Linked DNA regions of Homo sapiens: all the other regions are linked to region 4. Evidence: fine-mapped expression QTL. A gene starts in region 4. Each other region holds a variant in brackets. All regions are shown on one strand. Distances are between the middles of the regions.

Region 1 (5,152 bases), 33 kb before region 4:
GTGAGCCAAGATTGCGCCACTGTACTCCAGCCTGGGCAACAGACAGTCCGTCTCAAAAAAAAAAAGGTGGGGGGGGGGGGGATACTGCAGTATTATAAAATGGCTTTAGAACTCTGCACATAACAAAATTGTATGGAAAATAGGGAAGTCTGAATCAGCAATCCCATCACATATGAGGACGGCCATTCCATAGTTTCTAGCCCATAACTGATTTACCATTCCCAATAATGCAAGAGCAACATACCAATCATGCTGCAATGGGTGTTTTTATTATGCAGACAACCGAAAATTCTATTCGCACTATTGCTGGCATCCTTTAACTACTTTAAGACCTTTCTTGAGCGGCAAAACAGTGTGAAATTTAAAACTCAGTAAAGCAATGCTTTTGAGTGGAGCCAATGATTCATCACTCTCCCAGGTGGTCCTGGTTCTCACACAGGTGATGTATATTTTAAAAGAAACATTTTAAGATACCAAAACAGAAGCCCACCCTTTTCACCATGAAAGAATCTTGGTGCTCTGTTGATTAATTACATTAGTAAAAATAACATCGATATTAAGAACTAATGTTAAGCTATGTGCCTCTGGCAAACCTAAAGCAGCTATTTATGCTTCTAGTCTTTTCCTCTGCCTCTCCCTTTTAAACAAATTATCAAAATTTTGTGGCGGGTAAGGGGACAAGAGCAAATCCTACGTTTTCCTTTCAAATCCAACAGTTAAGTCATGGGTAGGGTTATTAAGATACTGCCCTATCAGACTCTACCTTGACTGGTGTGGCATCAACCAATCTGACCATAATGACCATTATATTTGTCCCATAACATAACTGTTCTGCACAGTTAACATATTTATACAAGAGGGATCAGCTGTTGTTGAGGATGTGGCCCAGCGGCATAACTATACTAATAATACCTGGAAATTGGACTTTTAATCTATTTCTCTGAAGAGAGCCTTGTAGGAATGACTCCGTCCTTATTTACAGTGGAATTAAAATTGAGTAAAGTCCATTTCCAATAGCCATTTGATACATGACAATTTCACACTAAATGGCTTATTTAAAAAAGTTCACAGCAATTACAAAAGATAAATCATTAGATGCCTCTGATGTGGGGAAGCAACAAGCCTAACAACCAAGTATGATATTATCACTATGTAATGTTTTTTCAAAATTTTGTATTGTGGACAACTCCCATAGTTGAGGTTTGTCATATTTTCCCTACAAACTGTTATTTGTAAAAACAATGCAGCACTTTTCCTTTATGAAGTTTCTGCAGATTGAGTAATGACTAGGTAAGCAGATGATTAAGGAGGACAACAAAATTCTAAAATGGAGAAACTCTGGCCATTTATTTCAAAGAAAAAAAAATCTGTCATTAAATTCCTAGTTATTGGCTATCCCCTCCTAGAAAGTAGAGGAGGAAGGGCTGGCTACCACAGACGCTGTAAATACACTTTATGTGAAGGTTCATTACTAAGGAGGTTAGAAGAAAGGCTATGTAATTAACTTCAGTTCAGCAAAGTGGGGGTGAATAAAGAGAAAGATAATACACCCTGTGTATTTTGTGGGAAAAGGGGATTATTGAGGACACCTACAAGAGTGGTATGTGACACAGAAGCCTACAATAATCAAAACAGATTTAAAAAGAAATCTTCACCCATAATTAGTATCTTCATAGCTATTAAAAAAATAGGTCATAATTTCATTCTTAGTGCCATTTTTCAATACTACCCTTTTAAGGATTTAAACCACCTGACTTTTTTCTGTGTAATGAAAACAAATGGCACAAAATAAATACAAGTTCATTCTCTGAATACTAATGTCTTATACACATTCATTTACTAATTTTTAATATCTCCATCTTTTCCTCACACACACATACATACATACATAAACACACACACACACACACACCCCTTTTTCAGTCTTTATAATGGAGGGATGTTAAAAATCCCCTCTAGACTGTATTTGGTTTATGCTACAGTACTAATACTCTGAGTTGAAGGAAAATTCTTTATACCAAACAATAACACGTTATTTAAATGTGCTAAATTAATCACAGCTGAAGTTTGTTTAGAAGCTTACACAAAATAATCAGAAAACAGATCAACTCTTAAGATTTTTTTTTAATAAGTGCTCTGTAAGGAATTGTGTGAGGACCTAAGGAGAAAGATTGCAACAAATAGAGTTAAGTGTTACCAAACAGCACAAAGAGATTTGTCCCAAAGTCCTGCTTGTACCTAGGCAATTAAGTCTATTAACCTAATG[C/A]CCCCAAAATACTGACAGTTAATATGATGGGGCACTAGGGTTCTCAGAAAGTTAACAGACATTCCTAACTACATACCTCTAACCATATAATCAAGGAAATTTCAGTGGAGAAATCAAAGTGAAATGTTGCATTGTTTCATTTAGAAGTGAGACTCTCAAAAACCTTTGGACAGACAGAGAAGTGATACATTCTTTTTGGCTTCTCTGAACACTGAGGCCTGAGGGATATGGAAGGAAATTAGAAAAGCAATAGCTTTCTAAAGATGTTTAATCAAGTGTTGCTTCTAAGTTAAAAAGCCCAATTCAGGTGGGGTCTGGGTTTGTTTTTTGTTTTTTCCTTTTCAAATATATACTCAATTCAACCTCTGTATGTCACAAACCCAGAAAGTTTCTTGTGAGTTGTGAGACGGAAGAACTTTAAAATTCCAGGCAAGCAAAATGGACATTTAAAAAAGGGGACTAGAGAGGGGAATCTGGCCCTAAGGCGACAAGTGGTTACACAAGGCAATTGAACACACAGCAGAACTTTAAAACCTGTAAAACAAACTGGAGCCTTTTTTCCCTTTAATCAACCTTATATGTCTTTTTTTTTAACTTTTTGAAAATTTTTATTTAAAAAAACACAAAAACACAGACTTTTTTCACTTCAGTTATGTGGTATGTTGCATTTTCCAGTTTGTTCAATGCTTTAAAGCTCAAGGATGCCTCTGCTTTCAATTGTACATGGGCCTGAAGCATCCTAGCTTTTGGCAAGCAGGCAGGAGACTCAACAAAAATCAAAATAGGAACAAGGCAGACTAAATGCAGGGCACATCTGTAAACATATTATACATTTGAAAATTACAATATCAGTCAAAGTGATACAGTTTACAGGTGAAATGAAACTATCTGGAACTGGCCTACCACAAGTTTCTGAACCTGGACTGATACAATAAGTTATTTTATATATATATATATATATTATGTATAAAAAAAAGTTTTGTTTACATCAAGTGGAATTGGCAATCCATGCTTATACTTTTAAAATCTAAGCAGGGCAGAAATCCAGACTAAAAAGATAGTTACTCTACTCTATGTTGAGTCCAACAGCTTCTTTCATGAACTACTTGTTTTAAAAGCCTCAAATAATCAACAAAACAAGAAAACCCATCCATACTACAGTCACTCAAAACTGGACATTTCTAGGGGTAGAGCCAAAGTAGTTACTTTCTCCCCAAATACCCCAGGGGATCCAGTCTACTTTTATCAGAAGACTACAACTCTTTATATAAATGCCCTGATATTTTAACCTGTATTTGACATACATGGATATACTAATTTCTGTGTGTGTGATGTGATGCTGTGTCAGGCCAGACAACTTGTTATTATGTTACTAACATCACCCAATCTCAATTGGACCCTTAATTTCTGCACACACACACAAAAATTTATTTTAGCATGCTATACACAAGCTGCAGTGCAACAGGATGGCAATGTAATGATAAGACAGGGCTAATGCTCTTCTCTGCCCCAAAGAAAATTTCCAGAATTTCACATTATTTTCCTTAAAAACCCATCTTGCTCTAGTAATAAAATATATTTATTAAGATATAATTAGAAGCTAACAAGCTCAGAAGTATAGTTTGCATGAAAACACACCTTCTACAGTCAGGGTTTATTATCTTCTCACTGGCTAAAAACATGAAAAGTTTTAGTTTTCATGGACTTTTTTCTTCCCCTTTTAGATTTTGCTGAGAAATTAAAAGATAATTTACAGAAAGGTCTAAGTTTGTCTTAAATGTTTGATGAAAAACAAGGAAAACAGCACATTTAGTGTTAGTGACGGAGAGCAAGTCTGGAGCACCTACAGTTGAAAAGCAGAATATATTTTTGCTCCCAGTTATACAATTACATTAAAATATGGGCACAGGAATATTTTTCCAGATTGTATATCTAAGCCAATTGCTTGTTCTGCAACTTTTCTTTAAATGACACGCATAGATTCTTCAGTTGTTAAAGTCCAATATGTAACCGAAGCCAAGTTAACTATGTACCATCAACTAACTATTCCAGAATTGTAGAACTTCAATGCCCTCCCCTATCCCCGCCCCACAAAAAATAAATGGAAAGAAATAAAGTATTTCCCCAACACCCCAGAGGCCGCTTAACTCCTGGCAAGACATGCAAATCATATTCGCTAAAAAAATACACCCTGCTAACTTCAAGGCATTTATCCAGCATTCTCGCAGGGCTTAATTAAAGTAAAACCAAAAAGATCAAGGGAGGAGTGGGGGGAAAATGTTGAATCATTCTGGGTTCCCCGTGATTAGTGTATCACTTCAGTCACAGAACAAGATACAGAGATCTTTTAAGTGGATTTGCCTTTCCAGTGGGTCATTTGTTGCCCAAGTTGATGACAGCAGGAACTTTAGAACCACACTTGTTAAGTCTGTATTCATTAATCACTTGCATTCACACTTAAAAACAAAAACTAACAGAAGAAAAAAAACCTATTCAGTACCGGAGATTAAATAACCATGTGTAGTCTCTTGAAATAAATTTGATTCCTTAAGAAGTCTAATTACTTTCAGTTGCCTTTTTTAAATAACTATATATATATATATGTATATATATATATTTGTATATATTATCCTGTGATTCTACTTATGGTTCCTCTGCTGCGTTGAAGATCTAGGAGCATAAAAGCCTTGTGTCCCCCATGAACGATGGCTCTAATGCTGCAGAAAGGTTACGAATAGGCAGTCTGGTCCTTCATTGATCTGGACTATCCATGGCTTCATTGTAAGTGATTATCCTTTTGGGATCTAGAAAGGTTAAAAAAATAAATAAAAATAAGGTCTAGAATCTCAAAATGCCCGTATTCCAATAACAATCCCAAATAACCAT
Region 2 (5,152 bases), 58 kb before region 4:
TTGTTTTAGCAGCAATAGGAAATTAATAGGGGTTAAAAGCTAAATCAAGGAAATCTCTTAGAAGTCAGAAAAAAAGGCTGAGAGCGGTGGCTCATGCCTGTAATCCCAGCACTTTGGGAGGCCCAGGCAGGAGGATCACTTGAGCCCAGGAGTTTGAGACCAGCTTGGGCAACATGGCAAGACCTCCATCTCTACTAAAAATACAAAAATTAGCCAGGCACGGTGGCGTGCACCTGTGGGCCCAGCTACTCAGGAGGCTGAGGTAGGAGGATCGCTTGAGCCTGGAAGTGGAGGTTGCAGTGATCCAGATCGCGCCACTGTACTCCACCCTGGGCAACAGAGTGAGACTCTGTCTTAAAAAAAAAAAAAAAAAGTCACAAAAAAGACAAAGAAACATAAAATAGTAGAGACATATAAGAAAACTAGAATATCATTTCAGGAGGTCCAACATCCAACCAATAGAAGTTGCAAAAAAACACATTAAATACAAGTGAGAAAATGATTTTTTTAAAAATTACAGGAATATTTCCAAGAATTGAAGAACATAGATTTCCTAAGGTTGGAAAAGTCTACTAAATGCCCGGAAAAATAAAGAAAATAAGATTTTCACCAAAGCATAGCCTCAGGAAATTCAGATTTTTAGGGATTAAAAAAAATCCAAAAACTTTTAGAAAGAAAAAAAAATCTTATACAAAGAATCAGAAATCAAAATAGCATCATACTGGCCAGGCGGTGGGTCACTCCTGTAATCCCAGCACTTTGGGAGGCCGAGGCGGGTGGATCACCTGAGGTTGGGAGTTTGAGACCAGCTTGACCAACATGGAGAAACTCCATCTCTACTAAAAATACAAAATTAGCCGGGCATGGTGGCTCATGCCTGTAATTCCAGCTACTCGGGAGGCTGAAGCCGGAGAATCGCTTGAACCTGGGAGGCGGAGGTTGCAGTGAGCCAAGATCGCGCCATTGCACTCCAGCCTGGGCAACAAGAGTGAAACTCTGTCTCAAAAAAAAAAAAAAAGCATCATACTTCCCAATAGCAACATTGCCCATAGAAGACAAAGGGGAAGTATTTTCACAATTTGTAGAGTACTGTTACCATACTCTATATCCAGCCAAACCTTCAATAAAATGCTGCTGTACAAAAATACATTTTTAGACATCCTGATCTCAAAAAAAGTATCTCTATGTACCATGTCTCAGGACACTATTAGAGAATGTGCTTTACCAAAACAAGAGGATAAACTACGAAAGAGGAAGATATAGGGTTCAACGCTGAAGGCAAGCAAAGGGAATGCCCAGGACATCAGTCAAGAGAAGTCTCTGGGCAGTAGCTACGTACAGGGAGAAAATTCCCCAGATTGGAACCGAACAGAAGCTTCCAGGCTAGGCATGGTGGCTCACACCTGTAATCCCAGCACTTTGGGAAGCCAAGGTGAGCGGATCACTTGAGCCCAGGAGCTTGAGGCCAGCCTGAGCAGCATGGCAAATCCCTGTCTCCACAAAAAATTCAAAAATTAGCTGGGCATGGTGGCATGCATCTGTAGTCCCAACTACTTGGGAGGCTGGGGTGGGAGGCTTCCAGAAAGGAGGTCTCCTGGGGGAAAAATGGAGCTGAGACATGATCTGAGAGGTTCAAATGTAGAATATCATATTAGAAGTATTTTTTTAACCATTTTTTTATTATTATACTTTAAGTTCTAGGGTACATGTGCACAACGTGCAGGTTTGTTACATATGTATACATGTGCCATGTTGGTGTGCTGCACCTGTTAACTCGTCATTTACATTAGGTATATCTCCTAATGCTGTCCCTCCCTACTCCCCCCACCCCTGTGTGACAGGCCCTGGTGTGTGATGTTCCCCACTCTGTGGTAGAAGTATTTAATGAAGATGCTGGGAAACTGAACCTATGAAAAACATTAGGCATTTTCTTAACTCCAGAAAAAGCAAAACATGGTTCAAGAAAGGAAATGTTATTAAATTTTGCCTGGTCAGCAGTGAACAATATTTACAAACTCATAGACAAGGAAATGCTGAATATGGATTTAAGTAAAATTTATAATACATCCATAGGATGGTGGGGAGGGGGAGAGAGCCATAAGAAGGATAAAATCTTTTTTTTTTTTTTTTTGTTTTTTGAGACAAGAGTTTCGCTCTTGTTGCCCAGGCTGGAGTGCAATGGCGCGATCTTGGCTCACCGCAACCTCCACCTCCTGGGTTCAAGTGATTCTCCTGTCTCAGCCTCCTGAGTAGCTGGGATTACAGGCTTGTGCCACCATGCCCAGCTAACTTTTTTATATTTTTAGTAGAGACAGGGTTTCTCCATGTTGGTCAGGCTGGTCTCGAACTCCCAACCTCAGGTAATCCGTCCACCTCAGCCTTCTAAAGTGCTGGTATTACAGGTGTGAGCCACCGTGCCCGGCCCTTTTTTTTTTTTTTTTTTTTTTGAAACAGAGTCTCACTCTGTTGCCCAGGCTGGAGTGCAGTGATGCCATCTCGGCTCACGCAACCTCTGCCTCCTGGGTTCAAGCAATCCTCCTGCCTCAGCCTCCTGAGTAGCTGGAACTATAGGAATGAAACACCATGCCCAGCTAATTTTTTTTTTATTATTTGTAGAGATGGGGTCTCACTATGTTGCCCAGGATGGTTTCAAACTCCAGGGCTCAAGTGATTCTCCCACCACGGCCTCCCAAAGTGCTGGGATTATAGGCATGAGCCACAACGCCTGGCCAGAGGGATAAAATCTTATCTGCCAAAACCTATAATACATAATGTCAAAATTGATGAATACCAGGAAAAAAAAGCTTAAAAAGTTGAAAATGGTAACCTCTGGGCAGAGTAGCTGCTGGGTTTTTAAAAAATATGTAGGCCAGGTGCGGTGGCTCACA[C/T]CTGAAATCCCAACACTTTGGGAGGCCGAGGCGGGTGGAAGATCACTTAAGGTCAGGAGTTTGAGACTAGTCTGGTCAACGTGGTGAAACCCTGTCTCTACTAAAAATACAAAAATTAGCTGGGTGTGGTGGCGGGCACCTGTAATCCCAGCTACTAGGGAGGCTGAGGCAGGAGAATTGCTTAAACCCAGGAGGCAGAGGTTGCAGTGAGCTGAGATCGTGCCATTGCACTCCAGCCTGGGCGACAAGAGCAAAACTCCATCTCAAAAAACAAAAAATAAATAAAAATAAATAAATATATATACATATATTATATACCTTTGATGCACCAAATATTTATCACACAAGAAAATATGACTTCTTAAGTTATACATAATTTTCTAACAAAATATAGCAGTTGCTTTTTAAAATACTAGATAAAAAGGGGCTATTGATTAAATGAAGTTCCTGAGATGGTAGGAAGGTGTATAATCCAGGACAGGAAGTGCTGATCATCTGGGGCTGGAGATAAAGAGGTGAGGTGGGTGTGGTAATAGATACTCCTGCAGGTATTGCAGGTTCTAGGGGCAGAAAGTTGAGGAAATCCATGCCTGATGAAATAGGTTGTAATGTCACCTGCTGGGAGCAAAGGGAGTCTAGGCGTTGAGCAGCTTGAAGACAGTGTGAAGGAACATACACATGGAGCAGGATGTTACTGTGGAAATTTCAGGCTGGGTATGGTGGCTCACACCTGTAATCCCAGTACTTTGGGAAGCCAAGGCATGAGGATCACTTGAAACCAGGAGTTCAAGACCAGCCTGGGCATCATAGTGAGATCCTGTCTCACAAACATTTTTAAAAATTACCCAGGCATAGTGGTGCACACCTGTAGTCCTAGCTACCCAGGAGGTTGAGGTGAGAGGATCACTTAAGTCCAAGAGTTCGAGGCTGCAGTGAGCCATGATCGCACCACTGCACTTCAGCCTGGGTGAGATAGCAAGGTCCTGTCTCTAAAAAAAACAAAAAAGAAAAATCAGCTGAGTCACCAAAGTGGTAGATATTAGAAGCCAAAGTAGTGAGTTGTGCAACAGACCATTATGCAGAAATTTCTTTTTTTTTTTTTCTTTTTTTTTGATACACAGTCCACTCTGTCACCCAGGCTGGAGTACAGTGGCGCGATCTCAGCTCACTGCAACCTCCACCCCCAGAATCAAGCCATTCCCCTGCCTCAGCCTTCCCAGTAGCTAGGATTACAGGTATGTGCCACCATGCCCTGGCTAATTTTTGTATTTTTAGTAGAAACAGGGTTTCACCATGTTGGCCAGGCTGGTCTCCAACTCCTGACCTCAAGTGATTCACCCGCCTCGGCCTTCCAAAGTGCTGCGATTACAGGCATGAGCCATAGTGTGTGGCCTACCCTTCCTTCTTATACCAAGAATATAAAAGAATTGGAGACAGAGGCAGAAAGAAAATTTTGGGAGATAGCTGTGTTGTGAATCCCACTGCCCTTCAGGGGAAGGGGTGAAGGAGCTTCACTGCAAGGCAAAGGAGAAGGCTACGAGGGGCCCACTCTGAAAGCTTAAGATGTGTCCCCTGCAGACTAGAATCTAAAGGTCAGAAGTTAGGCTGGGCAACTGCTGAGGGATGAGGCCAAGCAAAGGAGGCTGATTGAGTAAGAACAAGCCCACATGCCAGAATTGGCCACGGCAAAGCATGTGTGAGTGCTTCCCATGGATGAAAGGGAGGTCATGCCTGAGAGGGAGCTGGAATGGGGTTGTAGCGACTTAGACCTGGAGCACAGATGTGTCCTTAGCAGAATGACACTGGAGGTGACCACCAGGTACCTAGGAGCTGTAGAAGGAACAGGTAGCCAGAGTGGAGATGCATAGACCTAGATCAAAGTTATTGCAGGTGGGGGCTCTCCCAAGAACCATTAAGTGCCCACAAAACTGACAGCTGTGAAGAGTTGCCAGATACAGAGTAGTGTGAAGCCATCTAACCACAGGACCAGTCAAGTAAGAAATTTTCTGCCCTCTTCCTCTCTTGTTCCTTCCACTCCTGGAAGGGTCAGAAACCAGTGAAATAGTGGGAGAAAGAAAAAAGGTTCATGCTGGGCATGGTGGCTCACGCCTGTAATCCCAGCACTTTGGGAGGCCGAGGCAGATGGATCACGAAGTCAGGAGATTGAGACCACGGTGAAACCCCGTCTCTACTAAAAATACAAAAAATTAGCCAGGCGTGGTGGCAGGCGCCTGTAGTCCCAGCTACTCGGGAGGCTGAGGCAG
Region 3 (5,152 bases), 43 kb before region 4:
TTGTAGGGGAAAGGTCCACACAAGCTCCAGTGCTGTCGAAGGAAGGATCTCTCAGGATGTCCCACTGGACAAAGGAAGGATGACTGTGGATGCCATTGATGGGTGGGAGATGATACCTAGTTTCCTAACTCCTCTCTCCTCCCCACTAAAGTCATCTTAAAATACAGCAGCCCAGCAACAGTTATGTCCATGGAGAAAATGAGGGCCCATAAAGATATTTACTACTAGATCCCAAATAAATTACAGGACTCAGCCTCCCATCCTGAGGTTGGCTTTAACCATTGGCCGAAGTGGCTGATCCTCAGGCCTCTCACTGGCCTCTCTCCAACACTCCCCACTCTCCTCATTGGGTCAACTCTGAGGCCAGCTCACAGCTTTGCGAGTGGTCCTCTGGCCAGGTCCACGAGCCAGGTTTTAGTTCAATGTACAAAAAGGGTTGACCATAACTCTCCTTTACACTCTAGGTTTCTATAGGGGGTATGGCTGGAGAAGCTAAGAATCTATAAGGAGCTCCTGGGACTCCCAGAATCCTGGCCTCTGGGCCATGCTTATGAAGGAACTGTGGTGGAATGGGAGCCCATAAGTCCTTGGCCTGTCCATTGGTCTAGATATTATCCCTGGCAGACCATTTCTATCATAAACCAATCCTCCCTCCACCTCATCCCTACTCTGGGCAAATGAACACCAACCAGTGGCATTAATTCAAACCCCTTCCTGCCCTGTCTACACTGGAAGAGACCTCATCAGGCATCCCAGGCTACAGCTGGTAACAGAAAGCACAGAGTCAGACTGAAGTTAAGCTGTTGACCTGGACCTCTGTTTTTCCTGATGTTCTAGCTCTCTTGCGCCATTCAATCTCATTTCAGATAACCATCTATGATCAGGAGAACTTTCAGGGCAAGAGGATGGAGTTCACCAGCTCCTGTCCAAATGTCTCTGAGCGCAGTTTTGATAATGTCCGGTCCCTGAAGGTGGAAAGTGGCGCGTGAGTATGGACTTCCGCAGAACCGCAGCCCCTTATTTCAGGTCCCTTCAGACAGGGGACCATAGAGTGGGGATAGGGGAAGAAGGATGTTCCCCTAGGCTCTAGTCATTTCTCGGAGACAGGCCTCGAAAGAAATCACTACATGCATAATTTAGTAAGCCAAAGCTAGAAGGAAGGAACATGAGGTTCTTAGTGGCTTGGTACTAGATTTCAGGGGCTGGATAAAGAAATACATACAATGGGGTGGGACAGTGGCAGTAATCAAAATTTTGCTTCTGGAGCTCACAGGCTGCTACCTAGGGTGCCCTCAGAACAGCCACAAGACCCTTGAGTTTTTCTTGCCTGCAGAAAATTGGTAGAGAAGAAAGTGTCAAGTGGCTGCCTCTTCATGGCTAACTCTCCTCCTGCATATCCCAGAGCAGACACTGTTAGCTAATTTCTTTATGAAAAAAAAAACCTTAACCCCACGACTCCAGAGACATATTAGCTCCTGATTCATCTTTCAGGCAGTTTCTTGTTGATGGTTAATCTTGGTGAGGGAGACCCTCTCATTTTTGTCCTCTGACTCTTGGCAGAGTAGTTGAGGCCTTTATCATTAGCCTGAAAATACCTAAGGAAAAGACTCACCCTTGACTAGGCAGAATTGGCCTTGCATGTGGATAGGCTTCCACAAGTTGCTTGCCACCAAAATTAAGCTCTTCAGTCCTTTAAAAGATGTAACACTTTAAGGTGTCATCACTAACTGAGACCCAGTTGTGAAAAACTGAGCTGAGTGTTTCAAGTTTTAAGTACAGGTATGGGGCACTAGGAGAAAGAACTCGCAAGTCACAGGAAGAAAAAAGACTAGTAATCCATCAGTTGCTTGTTCATCCCTGTGCTTTCTTAAGAAGAAGCCAACAGGTTTGGCTTGAGCCAAAGCAATAGTCCAGGGGTGTCTAATCTTTTTGGCTTCCCTAGGCCACACTGAAAGAATTGTCTTGGGCCACATATAAAATACCATAACGATAGCTGATGACCTAACAACAACAAAAACAACTCATAATGTTTTGAGGAAGTTTACAAATTTGTGTTGGGCTGCGTTCAAAGCTGTCCTGAGCTGCATGCAGCCCTTGGGCAACAGGTTGGACAAGCTTGCAACAGTCACTAGATCCTGAAACAGGTAGAGAATAGGTGATTTGGAGAAAAAGAAAAAAAAATTTTTTTTTTTTTTGAGGCAAGGTGTCACTCTGTTGCCCAGGCTGGAGTGCAGTGGCACAATCATGGCTCACTGCAGCCTCCACCTCCAAGGCTCAACCCTCAGCCCCCTGAATAGCTGGGACTGCCAGTAGTGGGTCACCACGCCTGGCTAATTTTTGAGTTTTGTAGACGGGGTTTCGCCATGTTTCCCAGGCTGGTCTCCAACTCATGGGCTCAAGCGATCTGCTTGCCTTGGCCTCCTGAAGCGTTGGAACTACAGGCGTGAGACACCACACCCAGCCAGGAAATATAATTTTAGATTGGCTTTGCTAATACACTTCACTCAGACCAGTGAAGTAGATAGACCTTTTCAGTGATAACCCCCAAACAAATATTACATTCACTAACCTGCTTAGTATACCTGTCAACTCATTCCTCAACTCTTGTGACAAATTACTTTGTACAGCTCTACTGGGATTGGCTTGATATTTTACCCCACTATTGACTTATCTAAAA[C/T]GAAAGATGCCTTCTCCCCAAGGCCATATAGGCTTTGAACACCATGAACAAACACTACATGTCTTTGGCAGCTGGATTGGTTATGAGCATACCAGCTTCTGTGGGCAACAGTTTATCCTGGAGAGAGGAGAATACCCTCGCTGGGATGCCTGGAGTGGGAGTAATGCCTACCACATTGAGCGTCTCATGTCCTTCCGCCCCATCTGTTCAGCTGTGAGTCTCTGAAATTTCCACTTCCGTGCATATGAGGGATGGGACAAGAGGGTGTGGACAGACTGACGTTCATGCTATTTATCATCAGTTATGCTGAATGTGGCAGGAAAAAAGACAAAAGTAAAAAAAGAGAAAACATCACTTTCTTCTCTAAGCCTGCTATTTGATTTTTCTCCACCAGGTGGTACTTCCCTTAAGCTAAAACTAAGGGTCTTACAAGTGGCAATAAGTGGATACTCAAGAGCCCAGTAAACTTGTGAAACACTAGTAAATGAGTGAAAGTGCTTACCCTGCAGCAAAAAGTAAATCCTTGGCCAGTTAAATTTCAATCTGTGTAACATTTTTACTGCAGAAACAGGAAAATGCTGAAGTAACCTTTCAGTAAGTGGGAATGACTGACGAAATAGGCAAGTCTTCCAGTATCGATCTACACTGATTGATAATAATCTTCTTGTTCTGAACACTTAAGTATTACTCAATAATGCATCAGGCTGGGATGTTTCTGGTCTTTGGAAACAGTTCAAGCAGAAAGCAGAATGACCTTAAGGGGTGTGTTGAAAATGATCCCTGTATTAGGAGTTAGGTTGGGCTAGAACCTTTCCAAATATTCAGTCTATGTGAGAGTTTCTCGTGATTTTGGTTAATAATCTCATCTTGGTTCAAAGTCTTGCCAAAATTCAACTGGTGGAGAAGTTAACCTAAATAGTTCTAATCCAAATAAATAGTTGCCTGTCTGGAAATTATTTCAATCTCACTTTTAAAAACATTTCATTTGCCCACCCTAAGGTATAACTGACATACAGTAAAATGCACAGACCCTAAGTGAATATTCTCATGAGTTTTTGAAAAATATATAGATCCATGTAACCAACACCCTAACCATATAAAGAACATTCCATCATAGTTCCCTGGTGTCCCTTTCCACTCAATTGCTCCCCTACCACTTTCTATTACCAAACAGTTTTGTCCATTTTTGAAGTTCATACAGGTTAGTCTCTGTCTTTTTAATGCTTGTGTAGTATTCATGTCCCCTACTGGACATACAGGTTATATCCAACAACACACATACACACGCAAGCGCACACATACATATTTGGGCTTACTTTTTGTAATAATCTGTGAGATCTTTTTTCACATTAGTGAATATTAATCCCTTGGTTGGCTGCATTTTGTTAGTACTTTTTCTCACTGTCAAATCCTCTTCATTGTTCCAAAATAGTATATCAGTTATTTGTACATTCAAAATGTTATGGTATTTAAATTGGAATAAACAAAATTATGGGTAACTTTTTTCTCACAAATCTGTTGCCTTAATCTTTTTAAATTATCATGTGCTTCCTTGTATAATCCAAAAGTGTTTCAATTTTGAAAAACATGAAGAATGATAGCCATAGCACTAGTACTAAACATTTTAAAACAATTTCTGAATTACAGAATCATAAGGAGTCTAAGATGACCATCTTTGAGAAGGAAAACTTTATTGGACGCCAGTGGGAGATCTCTGACGACTACCCCTCCTTGCAAGCCATGGGCTGGTTCAACAACGAAGTCGGCTCCATGAAGATACAAAGTGGGGCGTAAGTACAAAAACAGGGTTGGAATATACTTCAAAGTAACTCCTGAGGTTGCATCAATAGTTATGTTTTAATCAGATTTCATACGTATCGGTATAGATGTCACATTCTAGTTCTACATAATTTTGAATCTCAATTTCTTTATACCAACTACCACTTTAGGTTGCAGATTTATCTCCCCCAGACATGCCTCTATGGAAGAATTTACGTTGACTACTTATACCTGTTTTGATGATTAAGGCTAATTAACTAGCTATAGCCATATTATGCTTACAAATAGTGCCTGACACATTTAGGATGGCTATTTTTTCTAAGCCTAAAAGCATCTCATACCATTGTGTTGAGTAAAGAGGCTCAGGTTTTGGGGTATTAACCAGATTCCTAATTAGTTTTAATAATGAAATGTACTTTGAATTTCCTAGCTGGGTTTGCTACCAATATCCTGGATATCGTGGGTATCAGTATATCTTGGAATGTGACCATCATGGAGGAGACTATAAACATTGGAGAGAGTGGGGCTCTCATGCCCAGACTTCGCAGATCCAATCGATTCGCCGAATCCAACAGTAGCTGATTAAAAGCTCCAAGTACGATAATTCCTCAAGCATGAGACCTTGCTAAGCACTCTAGAATAAGTTTTATGTTCTGCTCACAGACATTGCTTTCAAATGTTAGCTGCTGAAATCCA
Region 4 (5,152 bases):
GGAGAGAAGCCTCATCCGAGGCAAGATGGTAGTAGTCTAACCTCATGGATGAGCCACTTGGGTTCACCCTTAAGGACAAGAAAGAGGGGTCAAAAAGCTCGCACTCTTCCCCATCCTAACATTTTTTAAAATCCCTCACCTCAAAGACACTACCCAAGCTCAGAAGGTAAGTGCTGGGTCGGGAGGGGAATGGAACAAGGTTTTTGGATTTTTTTTTTTTTTTTGTAGAAAATGAGCTGCTAGAAGGAAAAGGCCCAAGTGAAAGCCTCAGAGGCGGAGTCGTGAGCGAACCTGGCAGGAGACGAGGTTCCTGTGGCAGAGAAACTCGTGACCGGGGAGCTGGGTTCCCGCTGGGTACCCCACCCGGCCTCAGGCACCGCCTCTACCCGAAATGAATCCCCCCGCCGCCCCCCCAGGCCTCCTGCCTCTAGGAGCGCCGCGGCCGCCGCCCGCGGCCTCCTTCCCTCTCAGCTCCGCTTCGAGGCCGGCTCCCCGCCCCGACTGCCCGCGCCTCCCGCCGCACCCGGGAGCGGGAAACGCGGCCGCTGGCGCGCGGGGCCCTGCGCAGGCCGCTCCCCTCGTGGCCGCTTCCCTCCCCCACCCCAACCGCCCCCGCCCCTCACCCCAGGGACCCGCCCGGGGCCGCGCGCCGCCACCGGGTTACACAACCCCGGCCGGCGACGGGGGGGGGGGCGGCCGCGGTGCGGGGGGCGCCGGCGCCCCCGCAGTGCAGGGGGCGAGGCTGCGGCCGGTGGTGATCCCGGGTCACCCGGCTCCGCCGCCCCGTGTGGCCCTCGACACCCTTCCCCCTCCGCTCCTCAGTGGGCCGGAGTCGGTGACAGGAATCGGCTTCCAACATGGCGGACAGGAAGCGGCCCCGCGAGGAGGAGAGAACATTCCAGCCGCGCCGGCTCTGGGGGGAGCGGGCGCGGGGCGCCGGCCTCGGGAGGAGCCGCGGGACAAGACTGCGGGGTCCGGCGCCCAAAAAGGGCGTTTAGTGGTGGAAATGACCCGTGAGATGAGGGGTCCCAACAGCCCCCCCCACCGAGACGGGGAGCCCCAAGGCCACAGGTGGGCTTGGGGTGGCGGGTGAGGGGCACTTCCTCAACTCACCCTACCTACCCACTCCTCGCCGCCTGCAAAAGGGTCTCGCGACACCATCCGAGTCGGGATTCGCTAGGCCTTCCTGAGTTACACCTCGAGGGATTTTTTGGGGGGGTAGGTTTACCCCATCTCAGGGCCCCCAAATTGAGGTAACTCCAGGGACGCAGGGAGGTGAATGGGAAAAGAATAATGAGGTTGGACTTGCAAGGCCGACCCAGCAGGTCTCCCTTCAGCCGGGGCCGGGGCCAGGAAGGTCACGCTGGCCTGGCTGGGCCTCTCCCATGCTGGAGGGAAGGAGAGGGCGCTGCAAACCCCATTGCTCAGCCCGAGCTCTAGAATGAAAGGGGCATCCCCAGAGCCGGAGGGGACACACACACACACACCCCGACCCCGTCCGCGCTTTTCGGATCCAGCCCCACCCCCATCTCTCCTGTCCTCCACCCCCAACCCCCTTCCCCCACCCGTCCTCCCTCCCAGACCTGTTTTCTTCTTCGGCGTTTCCTGGTGCTGCTGGAGGGTGTGTTTCTGCTCATGTTTCAGCGGCTTTGGCTGGGCCTTGGGGCTGCCCTCGGCTCCATGCTGCAGGTATTGGTGAGGCTGCTGGTGATGATGGTGGTGGTGGTGGTTGTGGCTGTGGTTGTAGAAATAATAATGGTGGTGGTGGTGCGGCTGCTGCTGCTGCTGCTGAGGGTGATGGTGCGGATGGTGGTGGCTGTGATGGTGCTGAGGCTGTGGCTGGCCGGGCTTCTCCTCCATTGAAAGCGGCTGGGACTCCCTGGCTGAGGCTGCGGGCTGCTGCACCGTCAGGATCTGAGACTGCTTCTCAGGGCTCACTCAGTATATCTGAGCGCGTCTCGCCAGCGCACTGGTTAACCGAGCGATTCTGCGAGATTGGCAGCCGCACTCCAACAATCAGGAGCCACGCTGTGCCGCAAGCCCCGCCCCCAGCTCAAATCCTCTTTCCTTCCCCTTCGCCGCTGCCGCCTGGCCAACGCCACTTACCCTGTGCAACCTCACAGGGCCGGGCCTTCAACGTCAGCACTATGGCTCTCTCTTCTGTCGCTTTCTCTCCTTCACCACGCAGTCTGTGAACAGCACTTTCTACACTCCTCGCCGGCAAGCAGGCTCGTGTCGAGGGTAGCAGATTCCACTGGCGATTCCACTGGTGCTGTGAGCCATCTGCTGGCTTTGCACCTCTTAGAATCTGGTGTTTTTTTGTTTTTTGTTTTGTTTTGTTTTTAATCCTTTTCCGGGTAACCAGAAAGGGAAGCTCAATTCCCTTAACCCCGAGACCACTAAAGGGGCAATACAAAAAGAGGAAATAAATACATTTTTAAGCATACAAGAGCTTCACAATCCAGTAGATCATTTTGTATTCTGGATTCATTTTGCTTTGTATTCATATGCTAATCTCTTCCTTTCCACGAAGGGATTATAGGGTTCCACAATGGGGTATCTGTGTAATTTTCTAAAAGGGCACAAAGGGTTTAAATCATTGTTTCTTTGTAGTTGGAGGCAAGGGAGAGCAGGAGGAATGAAAATTTACACTGAAGGTTTTTTTTTTTTTAATTAAACTCTGCAGGTGAGGTCAACTGTGGAACCAAAATAGGTTTTAGAATGAGAAGTTTCAAGAGCAAAGGAAGGGGAGAAAGAGCACTTAAAAGTTATTAAGTGGGTTTGTTTTTTTTTTTTTTGGCACTTATGGAAAAATTGAAATTAAAAGAAATATTCTGTAGCGTTTTGTAGTGTAGATTTAACTTATCCTGCATTACCACATCACAGTATATGATTTTCAAAAGCAAATGTTAGAGCCATGATAGTGGTTACTCAGGAAGGAAGAGGGTTGTGATGGGGAGGGACACAGGTTACTCTGATAATATTTCATTTTGGGGGCTAGGTGGTGATTACATATATTTGCTTAGTAATTATTTGTTAAACTGAATATACAGATAAAATGCACTTTTCCCAATGTATGTTATAGATTGGGGGATTTTTTTAATTGTAAAATATTCATAATATAAAATTTACCATCTTAATATTAAGTGTATGGTTCAGGTGCATTAGGTACATTCGTATTGTTGTAGAACCATGACCATCATCTATCTCCAGAACTTTTTCATCATTCCAAACTGAAACTTCATACCCAATAAAAATAAATGTCCTTTCCCTCCTCCTTCCATCCCTTGATAACCACTGTTCTGTTTTCTGTCTCTACGAACTTGACTATTCTAGGTACCTCATATAAGTGGGATTGTACTGTATTTGTCTTTTTGTGACTAGCTTTTTTGCATAATGTCTTCAGAGTAGCATACATCAGAATTTCCCTCTTTTTTAAGGCTGACTAATATTCCATTATATGTATATACCACATTTTGTTCATTCACTCAGCAACGGACATATGGACTGTTTCCTCAATGTATGTTACGTTTTTGAATTTTTAAAATGTGGCTTGAATTCCTACAACAGGACAACATTAAAGGAACAAGAAGCTTGAAAGCAAAAAGTTTATGCTATGAAATTAATGAATGTCAATGCAAAAGCTTATTTAAAACGTAAAAGCTGGTTTCCAATAACAAATGTCATTGAATCCTGAAAACCATGACCAAATTTTGGCATGTTCTATACAGTAAGGATTTGTGTTGCCTTGTTAAATTTTATTTTATTTTATTTTGAGATGGAGTTTTGTCCTTGTTGCCCAGGCTGGAGTGCAATGGCATGATCTCAGCCCACCGCAACCTCTGCCTCCTGGGTTCAAGCAATTCTCCTGCCTCAGCCTCCTGAGTAGCTGGGATTACAGGCATGCGCCACTGTGCCAGGCTAATTTTGTATTTTTAATAGAGATGGGGTTTCTCCATGTTGGCCAGGCTGGTCTCGAACTCCTGATCTCAGGTGATCTGCCCACCTCAGCCTTCCAAAGTGCTGGGATTCATGAGCCACCAGGCCCAGCCAGCTTTGCTAAATTTTAAAGAAAAACCTCTTTGGGGGTACATTTACCCAATTTTGAGAATGAAAACCCTAATAATAATATCATATCACAATAAGTCTTTACCACTGAATAATATTCTGCCACGTTCCCAATTATTAAAGAAAAAACAGGTCAGGTGTGGTGGCTCACACCTGTAATCCCAACGCTTTGGGAGACCATGGCAGATCAGTTGACCCAGCAGTTCGAGACCAGCCTGGGCAACATACAGAGACTCTCTCTCTACAAAAATTTTTAAAAATTAGCCTGGCATGGTGGTGTGTGCCTGTAGTTGGGAGGCTGAGATGGGAGGATGACTTGAGCCCTCCAGGTGGAGGCTGCAGTGAGCTGTGATTGTGCCACTGTACTCCAGTCTGGGCAACAGAGCGAGATCCTGTCTCAAAAAAAAAAAAAGAAGAAGAAAGAAAGAAAAGTATATATACAATTTAAGATTATGTTGGTATTTTTTGTTGACTTAGACATTCAGTTGGAAGGCTTGAATTTCTGAGTTCCAACTTCCCTGTCTAGGTTTTCTACATTATACCTGCAGGCAAACCAAAAGCACTCATTCTGTATTTCTGATTTATCACACTTTTGCCTACCTTTAGCTTTTCACTTACAGTTGTACTGACTGAGTTTAATAAACTAAATCTTATTCTCAGATGCTCTAGTTACTATGAATGTTGCCTTAGTAGTATGCAGTAGTATGAAGAAAGGCTTATGATATAATGTAAGAAAAAAAGCAGAATATTACATTCTTGTATACATTAGAATCATAATCTTGAACACGAATTTTAAAAATAAGAATGGAAATACAACAGTAAAACACAGACCTTTTTTCTTCTTGATTTTTCTGAAGTTGTTTTATATAAAATATAATTGGGATTTGCCAAGAATGTGAAATATTCCATTATAATAATGCCCTTAGCCGGGCGTGGTGGCACACTCCTGTAAACCCAGCACTTTGGGAGGCCAAGGCAGGCGGATCACGAGGTCAGGAGATCGAGACCGTCCTGGCCAACATGGTGAAACCCCGTCTCTACTAAAAATACAAAAATTAGCTGGGCACGGTGGCACATGCCTGTA

Which allele goes with the higher level. Positions count from the first base shown, and alleles are read on the strand shown. Sizes are in standard deviations (SD) of each study's normalised expression. Not every link is listed here.
As copies of C replace T in region 2, the expression in CD4 T cells of the gene that starts at base 1,949 in region 4 goes down (moderate effect, 0.41 SD a copy in CEDAR).

The links. PIP is the estimated chance that this variant, and not a neighbour inherited with it, causes the effect.
Region 1: its variant is fine-mapped to the expression of NUFIP2 in whole blood (TOPMed, PIP 0.99).
Region 2: its variant is fine-mapped to the expression of NUFIP2 in CD4 T cells (CEDAR, PIP 0.95).
Region 3: its variant is fine-mapped to the expression of NUFIP2 in whole blood (TOPMed, PIP 0.97).

The regions. Positions count from the first base shown.
Region 1 is chr17:29,259,522-29,264,673 of GRCh38, forward strand. It overlaps NUFIP2 (nuclear FMR1 interacting protein 2), which reads right to left. Exons shown (of 4, transcript NM_020772.3): 4 at 1-5,070. The coding sequence ends at 5,018. Among named protein-coding and RNA genes, the nearest start is that of CRYBA1, 15 kb to the left of the region's middle. The variant C/A (reference allele first, on the strand shown) is at 2,267.
Region 2 is chr17:29,234,107-29,239,258 of GRCh38, forward strand. No RefSeq gene overlaps it. Among named protein-coding and RNA genes, the nearest start is that of CRYBA1, 10 kb to the right of the region's middle. The variant C/T (reference allele first, on the strand shown) is at 2,889.
Region 3 is chr17:29,249,316-29,254,467 of GRCh38, forward strand. It overlaps CRYBA1 (crystallin beta A1), which reads left to right. Exons shown (of 6, transcript NM_005208.5): 3 at 867-985; 4 at 2,749-2,890; 5 at 4,325-4,467; 6 at 4,887-5,152. The coding sequence ends at 5,034. Among named protein-coding and RNA genes, the nearest start is that of CRYBA1, 5.0 kb to the left of the region's middle. The variant C/T (reference allele first, on the strand shown) is at 2,678.
Region 4 is chr17:29,292,200-29,297,351 of GRCh38, forward strand. NUFIP2 (nuclear FMR1 interacting protein 2) reads right to left here and starts at 1,949. Exons shown (of 4, transcript NM_020772.3): 1 at 1,584-1,949. The coding sequence starts at 1,860. RefSeq lists silencers at 618-797, 1,428-1,547 and enhancers at 1,254-2,014, 1,708-1,807, 2,118-2,317.